3 linked regions of the Homo sapiens genome follow. The protein of the gene in region 2 purifies or fractionates together with the protein of the main gene of each other region. This does not show direct contact. Each region holds a gene or a part of one and is shown on either strand. Other genes may lie near its edges.

Region 1 (3,654 bases), on a different chromosome or scaffold from region 2:
GCTAGTGTCAGCCTTAGCCTCCCTCCCTTTAAGAGGGAGAAGATATGTAACTAGTAAAGCTCTAAGGCAAGGCCTCATGGTCCAGAATGACTGCTGGAAGTCCAGCCATCACATCCATATTTGAGTCAAGAGGAAAGGATTGGGCAAAAGAGACTCATTTCATCTCCCAATTATGTCAGCCTTTTAAAAATATCTTCCCAGAATTCCTATCCAATACTTATGCCTACAACTATGACCAAAAGTTAGTCATATAGTCATACTTAGTTGTAAAAGAAAGGCTTAGCCGGGTGTGGTGGCTCACACCTGTAATCCCAGCACTTTGGGAGGCCGACGCAGGCAGATCACCTGAGGTCGGGAGTTCAAGACCAGCCTGACCAACATGGAGAAACCCCGTCTCTACTAAAAATACAAAATTTGCCGGCGTGGTGGCGCATGCCTGTAATCCCAGCTACTCGGGAGGCTGAGGCAGGAGAATCGCTTGAACCCGGGAGGCGGAGGTTATGGTAAGCCGAGATCGCGCCATTGCACTCTAGCCTGGGCAACAAGAGCGAAACTAAAGAAAGGTTGAGAAATGTAGTCTTTTGGGGCAATTTTCCCCTTCCAAAAAATTGGGGTTCTATTAATAAGGAGGAAGAGGAGAATGATTTTGGCTAAATAAACTGTAGTATCTACCAAAGATGAAGAGAGCCATAGGTTTCCAGAATAGTGGGAGAGCATATTTTTTTAGAAATAAATATTCTTGGCTGGGCATGGTGGCCCACACCCATCATCCCAGCACTTTGGGAGGCTGAGGTGGGAGAATTGCTTGAGGCCAGGAATTCAAGACCTACCTGGGCAACATAGTGAGACCCAGTCTCTTTTTTTTTTTTTTTTTTTTTTTGAGATGGAGCCTTGCTCTGTCGCCCAGGCTGGAATGCAGTGGCGCCATCTCGGCTCACTGCAAGCTCTGCCTCCCGGGTTCACGCCTTTCCCCTGCCTCAGCCTCCCGAGTAGCTGGGACTACAGGTACCCACCCCCATGCCCGGCTAATTTTTTGTATTTTTAGTAGAGACGGGGTTTCACCATGTTAGCCAGGATGGTCTCGATCTCCTGACCTTGTGATCCGCCTGCCTTGTCCTCCCAAAGTGCTGGGATTACAGGTGTGAGCCACCGTGCCTGGCCTTCCAGTCTCTTTTTAAAAAATTATTTAAATATATTTTTATTTTTGTAGAAATGAGGTATCGCTATGTTGCCCAGGCTGGTCTTGAACTCCTGGGCTGAAGCAATCCACCTACTTTGGCGTCCTCCCAAAGTGCTGGGATGAGAGGCGTGAGCCACTATGCCCAGACTCAGAGACCCTGTCTTTAAAAAAAAAAAAAAAGAATGTGGCTGGGTGCAGTGGCTCACACCTGTAATCCTAGCACTTTGGGAGGCCAAGGCAGGCGGGATCACCTGAGGTCAGGAGTTCAAGACCAGCCTGGCCAACATGGTGAAATGCTGTCTCTACTAAAAATGCAAAAATTAGCCGGGTATAGTGGTGCACACCCATAGTCCCAGCTACTCAGGAGGCTAAGGCATGATAATCACTTGAACCCAGGAGGTGGAGGTTGCAGTGAGCTGAGAGTGTGCCACTGAACTCCAGCCTGGGCGACAGAATGAGACTCTGTCTTAAAAAAAAAACAAAAGGAAAGAGAGGGAGAGAAAGAAAAGGAGAGAAAGGAAAGGGAGGAAAGGGGAGAGGGAAAGGAGAGAAGAAAGGCGAAAGTAATGGGGAAAGGAAAAGGGGAAAGGGGAAAGAAAGGGGAGAAAGGGGAGAGAGGACAGGAAAGGAGAAAGGAAAGGAGTCTTACTTGGTCTGCTTTATTCATTGACTTAAATAACTTTGATACTTTCTGGCCCATTTAGGTGTTTGCCATTGTACCCCCACTCAGAATGACTGATGCTGTGCCATGCACATAATAAATGTTCCTGATGCTGGGGTTTGCATTGGCTGGGACTACCTGAGAATTGGTCTGACTCCATCAGCGCCATTGCTGGTGGAATGTTTCATTGGGTCATGGCCTCTGAAGTATCTTTATTTCCATAGGCAATCTTGCTGCCAATGATCTCTCCCCGTCCCGAATAGCCAGACTACAGAAGATCCTTCACAGCTATGTGCCTGAAGAGATCAGGGATGGAAATCAAGTTCGAGTTACCTCATGGGATGGCAGGAAATGGGGAGAACTGGAGGGGGACACCTATGACCGGGTGAGTGATTCTTGATTTAGGACATGCATCCAGCTTAATGCGGCCTCCCCATCCTGGTTCTAGGGCCTGAGGGGTTAGGATCCAGCCCCTATGTTTGAGCATGTAGAGCTGTTTCTGGACTGGCCAGTTCTACATTGGTGATTTGACCAAAAGAAAAATCAGCTTAGATGACTGGTTATTATCTCTATTAAAGATAGTTGGCAGCAAAAAAGAATTTGAAACTATTTGAGTAGGGGAAAAATTTACTAGGCTTACTTTATTTCTCAAGTCACTTGGTTGCTCAGAAAGCCTCATGAAGGTAAGTAAGAATAAGCTCATTTATTTATTTTTGAATGTTAGTACAGCACATGGTACAAAATTCAGAAGGCACAAAAGAGTATCCAATGAAAAGTGAGTTTTTCTCATCTGGCCTGTAGCCCCCTACTTCCCCACCCTATAGATAACGATTGTTTCTTTTTTTTTTTTGAGACGGAGTTTCGCTTTTGTTGCCCAGGCTGGAGTGCAATGGCGCGATCTCTGCTCACTGCAGCCTCCGCCTCCTGGGTTCAAGCAATTCTCTGCCTCAGCCTCCCGAGTAGCTGGGATTACAAGCGCCCACCACCACGCCCGGCTAATTTTTGTATTTTTTTTAGTAGAGACGGGGCTTCACCATCTTGGCCAGGCTGGTCTTGACCTCCTGACCTCGTGATCCACCCGCCTCGGCCTCCCAAAGTGCTAGGATTACAGGCGTGAGCCACTGCGCCCAGCCGGTAGTATATTATATTATACTCACTATTCTGAACTTTGTATTTTTTTATTTAATAATGTGTCCTGGGGTTAAATCCTTTTTTAATTTTGTTGACATTGTGGAAGTATAGTTGTTGAATAACAGTTTACATCCATTTAAGATTTTGATAGCGATTGCTAAATTTCTCTGTGGAGGTTAAACCAGTTTCACTCCTACTGGTAATGAATGAGTACTGATTTCCCACATGCTGCCAATATTGGTGCTATCAAACTTAATTTTTTTGCCAAATGGATAGTATCTAATTTACAATCTCTTATTAATCATGTTGAAAATCTCCATATTAATTTTTTTAAAGTTTTTTTTTTTTGAGTGGCAGGTTTTCACTTTGTCACCCAGGCTGGAGTACAGTGGTGTGAACACGGCTCACTGCAGCCTCAACCTCCTGGGCTCAAGGGGTCCTCCTGCCTCAGTTTCCCGAGTAGCTGGGACTAGAGTGTGCCACCATGCCCAGCAAATGATTTTTTGTAGAGACGGGGTCTCACTATGTTGCCCAGGCTGGCCTCGAACTCCTGGGCTTGAGCAGTCCTCCCACCTTGTCCTCCCAAAGTGCTGGGATTATAGGTGTGAGCCACTGTGCTGGGCCAGTCTCTTCATGTTTTTAAGTTATTTATTTTATTTTAAATGGCATACTCTAAAAATAT
Region 2 (3,654 bases):
AAAGCAAAAGTTGCTCCTGAAACATGATCAGAGAAATCCCCAGATTCCTTAGTTGGAAAGAAGGTTCCTGGATTGGCTGTTAACACATAGTTTAGAAATATCAAAAAAGTAAAATTCAAACAGTTAATTTAGAAATTTCAAACAATAATCAAACAGAAAGGCTTTGCTCAATTATCAAGGTTTCTCAAATTATAGCAAGACACATTAACGTATAAGAACAAAGTATTACTATACTACGATAACTACTCTTGCAAAGTCTTTGCAAGCACTCAAATATTACTGAATAAATTCTAGTAAAATTTAAACCTACTTATTCCAGATCCTACTGGACCCATGTTAGAAGATCCTATTCTTCCTGCAAACCCTCCAATCATTGCACTGCCTAAACAAGGATGGAAAGATAATATACTAATTAATTTTAAATAATCATACTTTAAAATTCCCAAGGTACTATGTGCTCTGATTTACAATAAATGAAAAGCATAAAGTCTTCTGAAAATAGAGTTCAAATATGTAAGATGTTGAAAAAGAGAGCTAGCATATTAAAATCCTTAAAGTGTTTTCTTCAGGTAATAAGTTGTATAAAACATTATGATTTTCTGATTTTTCACAAAAAAAGAGAAACCAAATTTCAAAAATTATAGCCTACAAAAAGAAAAGGAGAAGTATGCAGCCAGCCCTACCAAGTCTACCAAAGGAATCTCCAAAGCCTCGATTTATTCCAATATCACCACGTCCAAAATCTCGCTCCATGCTACTAGTCATCGCACCACGGTACAGCTCTGAAAAAATTGTGCAACAAATTAACCTTTTCAAATATATCAATACATGTTGAAAACATTCAGGAATGTATCTAAATTATGAAAAGACGCGTAAGTCACAAATATAAAATAGTCTGTCATTTACCCAATTTACCTCACATGCCACACATATCATCCCCATTCCCCAGGCCTGTCCTTATCCCCTAGTGCCTATATGCCTTCTGAAGACATTTTTAGCACACATTCCTAAGTTATAGGGGGGAAATATTAATAATAGGGAAAACTAAATATGCACACACTTCCCACTGCATACATTTACCTACCTCCCATTCGGCCAACTCCTCCAAATCCTCCCATGCTATTCATTGCTTCCAGACCACCAAACCCTATTCCTATGGAATAAAGATTAATTTTGAGATCCAACTGTCAGTCATGTAGCTGAAAGGTACGTTTTGTAAATGTTAAATCTCACCAGTAAGCTCTTCATCCACCCTACCTTGTGCAGCTACTTCTTAACACATCACCTTCCTTTAAGTATGTACCAGGCTCAATTTCTGCTAGCAGCCTTTAGAACATGAGCCAACAATAAACCATGACTTTTTTTTCATGGAATTCTCAACACAGTTTCTAGTTTATTAAAAATGGTGATGGGTACATACAAAAAAACAAATCTTTATACATACCTCCTCCAATTCTATTCATTCCTCCAAAACCTGGACCATCCATTCCCATACCTCAAATAAAATACACAGTATGTACTTTAAGTATATTTTATTTTTATGACTAAAAGATGATATAATGCATTATAGCAAAATAGATACCACTGGTATAACCACAATGAAACACTAGAGAAGCGGTAGGGTACAGGAGGCATGGTTTAAAGTGCTATGCCATAGCAGCTGTCTAATCATGAATCTTCAAAAGGGTTTCTTTGAACATTTATCAGACAAGAAAGCAAAATTCACTAGTAACACCCACAACATTCAGTTAGAGAATATCTTGAACTAGGTAATCATTCACTTTTTTTTCCACAATAAACACAGAAATACTACTATCAATGATTTTTTTTTTCCAGCATAGACACAGAAATAGCATTACAGCAGATTTAGAGATCAGGCCAGAATGTAAGGACTCTCTAAACATCGCAGTTAAAAGAGCAGTAAAAATTTTCAAAATATAAATAGTATGTATTTAGGAGAGGGTAGGTAGGTGTGAGAGTCTAAGGGTAAGGGAGAAAACTTGTTTGGATCAGAATGATTATGATAATGAGCCTCATAATTTAAAGTGTGACTACAGCATCTTGACAAAATAGGAATCTGATAGCATTTATTAGTCCATCAATTAAAACAGTAATTCACAAAGTATGGTCCAGGGACTCTTGAGGGTTCAATAGGTCAAAACTATTTAAGTCACCAAATACTACTAAGACATTATTTGATGTTTTACCCTCATTCTCTTGAGTTTAAGGTGTAATTTTCCAAACACTATATGATGTACAATATCACAAAAAACTAAAGTGCAGAAACAGATATAACAGCAATATTAAGCCAAACATTAAAAAGATGTGTGGAAAGGTAAAACAATGCCACTCTCCTCACCAATTTCTTTTTTGCATTGAAAAATAGTTTATTTTCTTAAAACTTTTATGTATGTTAACATGTAATGAGTTTATCATTTTTTAATATGTAATTTTTTTAATTTCTAATTTTTCATTTATAATACAGTAAATACTGGTAATTATAACTACATAAACAAAGCATTTTCGGGTTCTCAACAAATTTTAAAATATAAAAGGGTCCTAACACCAAAGTTTAAAAACCAATCTCTAAAAATGAACTGTGAGTTCTTCCAGGTGAGCAGCCAAATAACTACCTGAAAAGCCACCTTCCCAAATGGATAAACAGATTTTAGCTGCCTATGATATGGTAGCATTTCAGCTACTCCATAAATACTGTTCATAGATGATATATTCTCCTTCTGCCTTCAAGACATTTCAAAATCCAAAATGCTAAAAGGCTAGCTACAACATAGCTGGCCCCAAAGAAACCCTCCTGACTTCTGCCTATCTCTTTCATGTTAGCTGTGCTCAAGGTTTCATTCCTTTTTCAGAATGAAGTGACACCGTAAATATCTAACTATTAATTAGAGTCCTTTAAACATTATTACAGACCACATCAATGGAGGCTTTATTAGCTAGCATATGTATCATTTAAAAAGAAAAGAGGAAGTTAGAATACTCACCACCTGGACCTAAATTTCCCATTACTCCACCTATGTTCAACTGGCTGGCACTAATAGGCTGTCCACCCGGACCAAGTCCCATCCCAATGCCTCCAAGACCACCTAAAACAAAAATGAGAACAATCATTACAAAGATCCATATATGATTAACTAATTGGCAATAAAATTTTTTAAAAAGCTATATACCTGTAGTAGTATCTGTAAAATTTCTGCAAATTTTCATATAAAAGCACTGGTTCTTGTTTTTGTCTAGAAAGTAGCACACTGAAGCCCGACTATAAAACCATTTATTAATGAGAAGTGTTTTATGAAATAAAACATGATATAATACAAAGTACACCTTATACCCCACTTAAAGGTACACTGAGAGGAATAATAAAATACCTAGAGGATTTTGAATAATATCATATCACCTTATATATGGCACACATATCTGAAAATGAGTATCTTGCCCAAATTTGTAGACCCACTTAAAATTTGATAATTACTTTTTAAATGGTTCAAATCAAACTAAAAAGTCAATAACCATGAAAGTATAACACTGAATAAGGCAAATATTATATTACCTAGTTTTCTCATTGATATAAATATTTATTTATATTTATATGGCACCTTAAGTGTTTCCACATCTATTGTCCATAGAAGAGGAAAT
Region 3 (3,654 bases), on a different chromosome or scaffold from region 2:
ATAAAAGTCTTACTTTGGACTAGGGAAAGAATTCTTAAGATAGGAAAAGCACAAAACATAAAGGAAAAGACTAATGAATTTGTCTACACAAAAACTACACATATATGTATATCGAAGACATTGTAAAGTTCAAAGACAAGCCACAAATTGAAAGATGTTGGAAATGCATAAATCTGAAAAAGGATCAGTATCCAGGAGACAGAAAGGACTCTTACAAATCAACTCAAAAAAGCAATCAAATAATGGGCTAAGGACATTAACAGGCAATTCATATAACAACAACAAAAAAGGAAACTTGAATGACCAATAAGCAATATTCAACTTTACTAACAATCAGGGAAATTCAAATTGAAATTATGTGATACCATGTCTTCCATTAAACAGACATAAAGTTTTAAGTCTGATAACTCCAAGGACCAAGAAGGATGTGTGGAAATGGGAATTCAAATATGGCAGCATAGAAACTGGATATCAAATATTGTTGAAGAGATGGTAAAATCAAAGAAGTACTTGAGAGAGCAATTTGTCAATATGTTGAATGTGAAGACATGCTACCCTATGACCCATCAATTCTACTTTGAGATAGCTATTCTAGAGCAGTGCTTCTCAAACCACCTGTGGAAAAATACCTTACCTTTTTGTGTGTGTATTTCAATTTATGAGGAACCAATAAATTGTAAACTATAACAAAAACAAATTACAGTACTAGAAAAAAGAAATTAAAAAACAAAAACATAAATATATAAGCTCTGATTTTTTATTTTTGATTCAACAGACATAAAACTGCTGTATTAAAATGCTATAAAAACTTCTAAACACTCATTCTCAATTTCTATACTCATCTCATTGAGGCTCAGAAACAAAAAGCTGGTGATAGGGCACTGGCCCACACCATACACTGAGTAATGCTACTCTATGGAAACCTGCACATGTACACTGTATCCAGGAGGCACTGGATAAGAATGTTATTGTGGCAGTGTTTGTAATAAGGAAAAACTAGAAACTACCTAACTCCTCATTGGTAATTCATTACAATAAAACTAGGCCCGCTCATAGAACGAAAAATGTAGCAGCTAAACATAAACGATCTACCATCTCACAGAGAATAAGGATAAAATGCCAAAAAAAGAAAAAATCCCTAGATCTACATGTATCAATATGAATAAAACTCAATGTTAGTGAAAATAAGGCAAGTTGTAAAATAAGAGTTTGGTAACATTTTTGTAGTTTCAAACAGGTAAAACAATTTTATAAACTCTTACACACTTACAGTAAAAGTATAAAAATATGGACAGAAAGGATATACATCAACTTCAGAATAGAAGTTAATCTGAGAAGAAAAGTCAAAGAGTAGGACCAGTGAACATACAAAGGAGGCTTCAAACAGATATTTAATTTTTTTCTTAAAAAAAAAAAAAAAGATCTGAAGGGAATAAGGCAAAATCTTAAGCTTTCATTATATTGTTCTCTGTACATTCCTCTATAATTGAATTATTTAATTAAAGATGTATTAAACTTTCAGCATCAACCGAGGGCCAAAGAGGGCAATCTAATACACAGTGACCTGGAGTATAAGGGAAGCCACTGTAATCTGAAATGAACTGTAAACAATCCTGCCATGCTTTCATAAACGGCACTACCTATCCAGGTAAAACTAAGTGCATGTCAACAACAAGGATGCATACTACAATCTGAAACTTTGGTCAAAAAACTTCCCTATTCTTAATCTGTACAAATGAAAATGCTATCCACAGACTCAAGCTGCCTATAAACCCTATCCATTCTCCCTGTTCTTGAAAGAGACAACAGTAGCATCTAACAACATGATGGACAGCCACAGCACATCATTAAGTACTGGTCTCACCTACTTTTAAAGGCTTTAGAACATCTGAATGTACAGTGGAGATTCCAGAATTCCCCACTACCTATGATGCAATCTTACTGAGTCCCATGATACCCAAAATGAGACTGACAAAGAACAGGACAAACAAATGTACTTAGAGACAATCATTTCAGAGAAATCCAAGTACCTATAACTGCCTTTTTCCTCTCTGTCTCAGCTTCTTTTTCCACAACCTTTTGTTTCTGTGCAGCTATAAGGAGTTTTGTCTTCTCAGCCTCCCTGTGAAGCAAAATGTTATAAAAATTAGAAATGATTCTCCTATGTGCAGTCACAGCCAGTAATTCTGACCCTACAGTGAGTCAGAGAACCGTTTTGTCAACATGAGCTTTTGGACCCATTAAGGTAGGTTAAGAGAGGTGTTACTTTATTTTACTTATAATAAATCTGAGGTTGAAAGATTCAATGATTTGCCCAAAGTCACCCAGAGATAGGAAAAAAATTTAGTACATTTGAATTTTAGTTTGGCTTTCTTCTCCTAGTTGTATTGTGTAAAGCCTGTGATTTGGAAGGGAATATATCAATACTTCCTTTGCTGTTAGACCTCCAGCTAGTCCATACAGCAGCTCTGTGCCAATTAGAAAACGGCACCAGCCGTTTCTACAGTCCTGCAGGTGCATGGTTTGACATGCAGAATGAAGCTGGGTTTCAGCCCCTGCCCTCCTCAGGTGGGCACCCATGTGCAGTGACCATATTTGTTGCACAGAAGATATAACTAGGTGGTAGTTATTAGGTAGTAAACTGGGGCTTACAGTAAGGAGAATTTTCTAAGGCTTCCAGTGTCTAATACAGGTTGAGCATTTCTGATCTGAAAATTTGAAATCCAAAATGCTCCAAAATCTGAAACTTTTTGAGAGCCCACATTATGACACAAGTGGAAAATTCCACACATAAGCACTTAAGGTAAACTTTGTTTCATGCACAAAATTATTTAAAATATTTTATAAAGTTACCTTCAGGCTATAGGTGTATATGGGACATAAATAAAATACCTTAAAAAAAAAAAACTAACCACTATACCAACAAGGAAGAACATAAATAAATTTTATATTTAGACCTGGGTCCCATCCCTGAGATATCTCATTATGTCTATGCAAATATTCCAGAATCTTTACAAATCCAAAATTTAAAATACTTCTGGTCCCAAGCATTTCGGATAAGGGGTACTAAACCTGTAATGGAAATGGCTGGCATATTACTAAGCATGTACAAGTAGCTACTGGGTAACCACGTGGCAGAAATGGTATAAGAAAACACTACTATCAGGTGCAAGGTTATACTGGATCATCCCAAGGTAGCTTTTAATTCTGGAATTCCAATAGTCCATAAAATTAAGAAAGATCCAGAATCATCTGAAAAGTAACTCCAATAGTTTCCCCAAAACACTTCCCCTCAAAGTTTCCCCTTTCCTCTGATAACATTGATAAAGACATCAAATGACAGTCTGAATACTATGATTTATTTGAGAGCAGAAAACACACAATATTCATTTTTCCGTCACCAGAAGCAATCTTTTTTTTTTTTTTTTTTTGAGATGGAGTCTCACTCTGTCACCCAGGCTGGAGTGCAGTGGCACTATCTCGACTCACTGCAAGCTTCGCCTCCTGAGTTCACGCCATTCTCCTGCCTCAGCCTCCCGAGTAGCTGGGACTACAGGCGCCCACCACCATGCCTGGCTAATTTTTTGTATTTTTAGTAGAGACGGGGTTTCATTGTGTTAGCTAGGATGGTCTCGATCTCCTGACCTCGTGATC

The links.
Region 1: the proteins of MYEF2 (region 2) and NSUN4 purify together in Homo sapiens (affinity purification with mass spectrometry; one large-scale study listed by BioGRID and IntAct). This does not show direct contact.
Region 3: the proteins of MYEF2 (region 2) and ERLIN1 purify together in Homo sapiens (affinity purification with mass spectrometry; one large-scale study listed by BioGRID and IntAct). This does not show direct contact.

Annotation. Positions count from the first base shown.
Region 1 is NC_000001.11:46,350,803-46,354,456, forward strand, and holds part of NSUN4 (5-cytosine rRNA methyltransferase NSUN4), read left to right. Parts: intron 1-2,065; coding exon 2,066-2,226; intron 2,227-3,654. UniProt on the Homo sapiens protein: Mitochondrial RNA cytosine C(5)-methyltransferase that methylates cytosine to 5-methylcytosine (m5C) in various RNAs, such as rRNAs, mRNAs and some long non-coding RNAs (lncRNAs).
Region 2 is NC_000015.10:48,150,790-48,154,443, forward strand, and holds part of MYEF2 (myelin expression factor 2), read right to left. Parts: intron 3,105-3,654; coding exon 3,003-3,104; exon of another isoform or gene 1,518-3,002; intron 1,496-1,517; coding exon 1,445-1,495; intron 1,154-1,444; coding exon 1,085-1,153; intron 783-1,084; coding exon 684-782; intron 383-683; coding exon 311-382; intron 1-310. UniProt on the Homo sapiens protein: Transcriptional repressor of the myelin basic protein gene (MBP). Binds to the proximal MB1 element 5'-TTGTCC-3' of the MBP promoter. Its binding to MB1 and function are inhibited by PURA.
Region 3 is NC_000010.11:100,161,974-100,165,627, forward strand, and holds part of ERLIN1 (erlin-1), read right to left. Parts: intron 2,123-3,654; coding exon 2,031-2,122; intron 1-2,030. UniProt on the Homo sapiens protein: Component of the ERLIN1/ERLIN2 complex which mediates the endoplasmic reticulum-associated degradation (ERAD) of inositol 1,4,5-trisphosphate receptors (IP3Rs).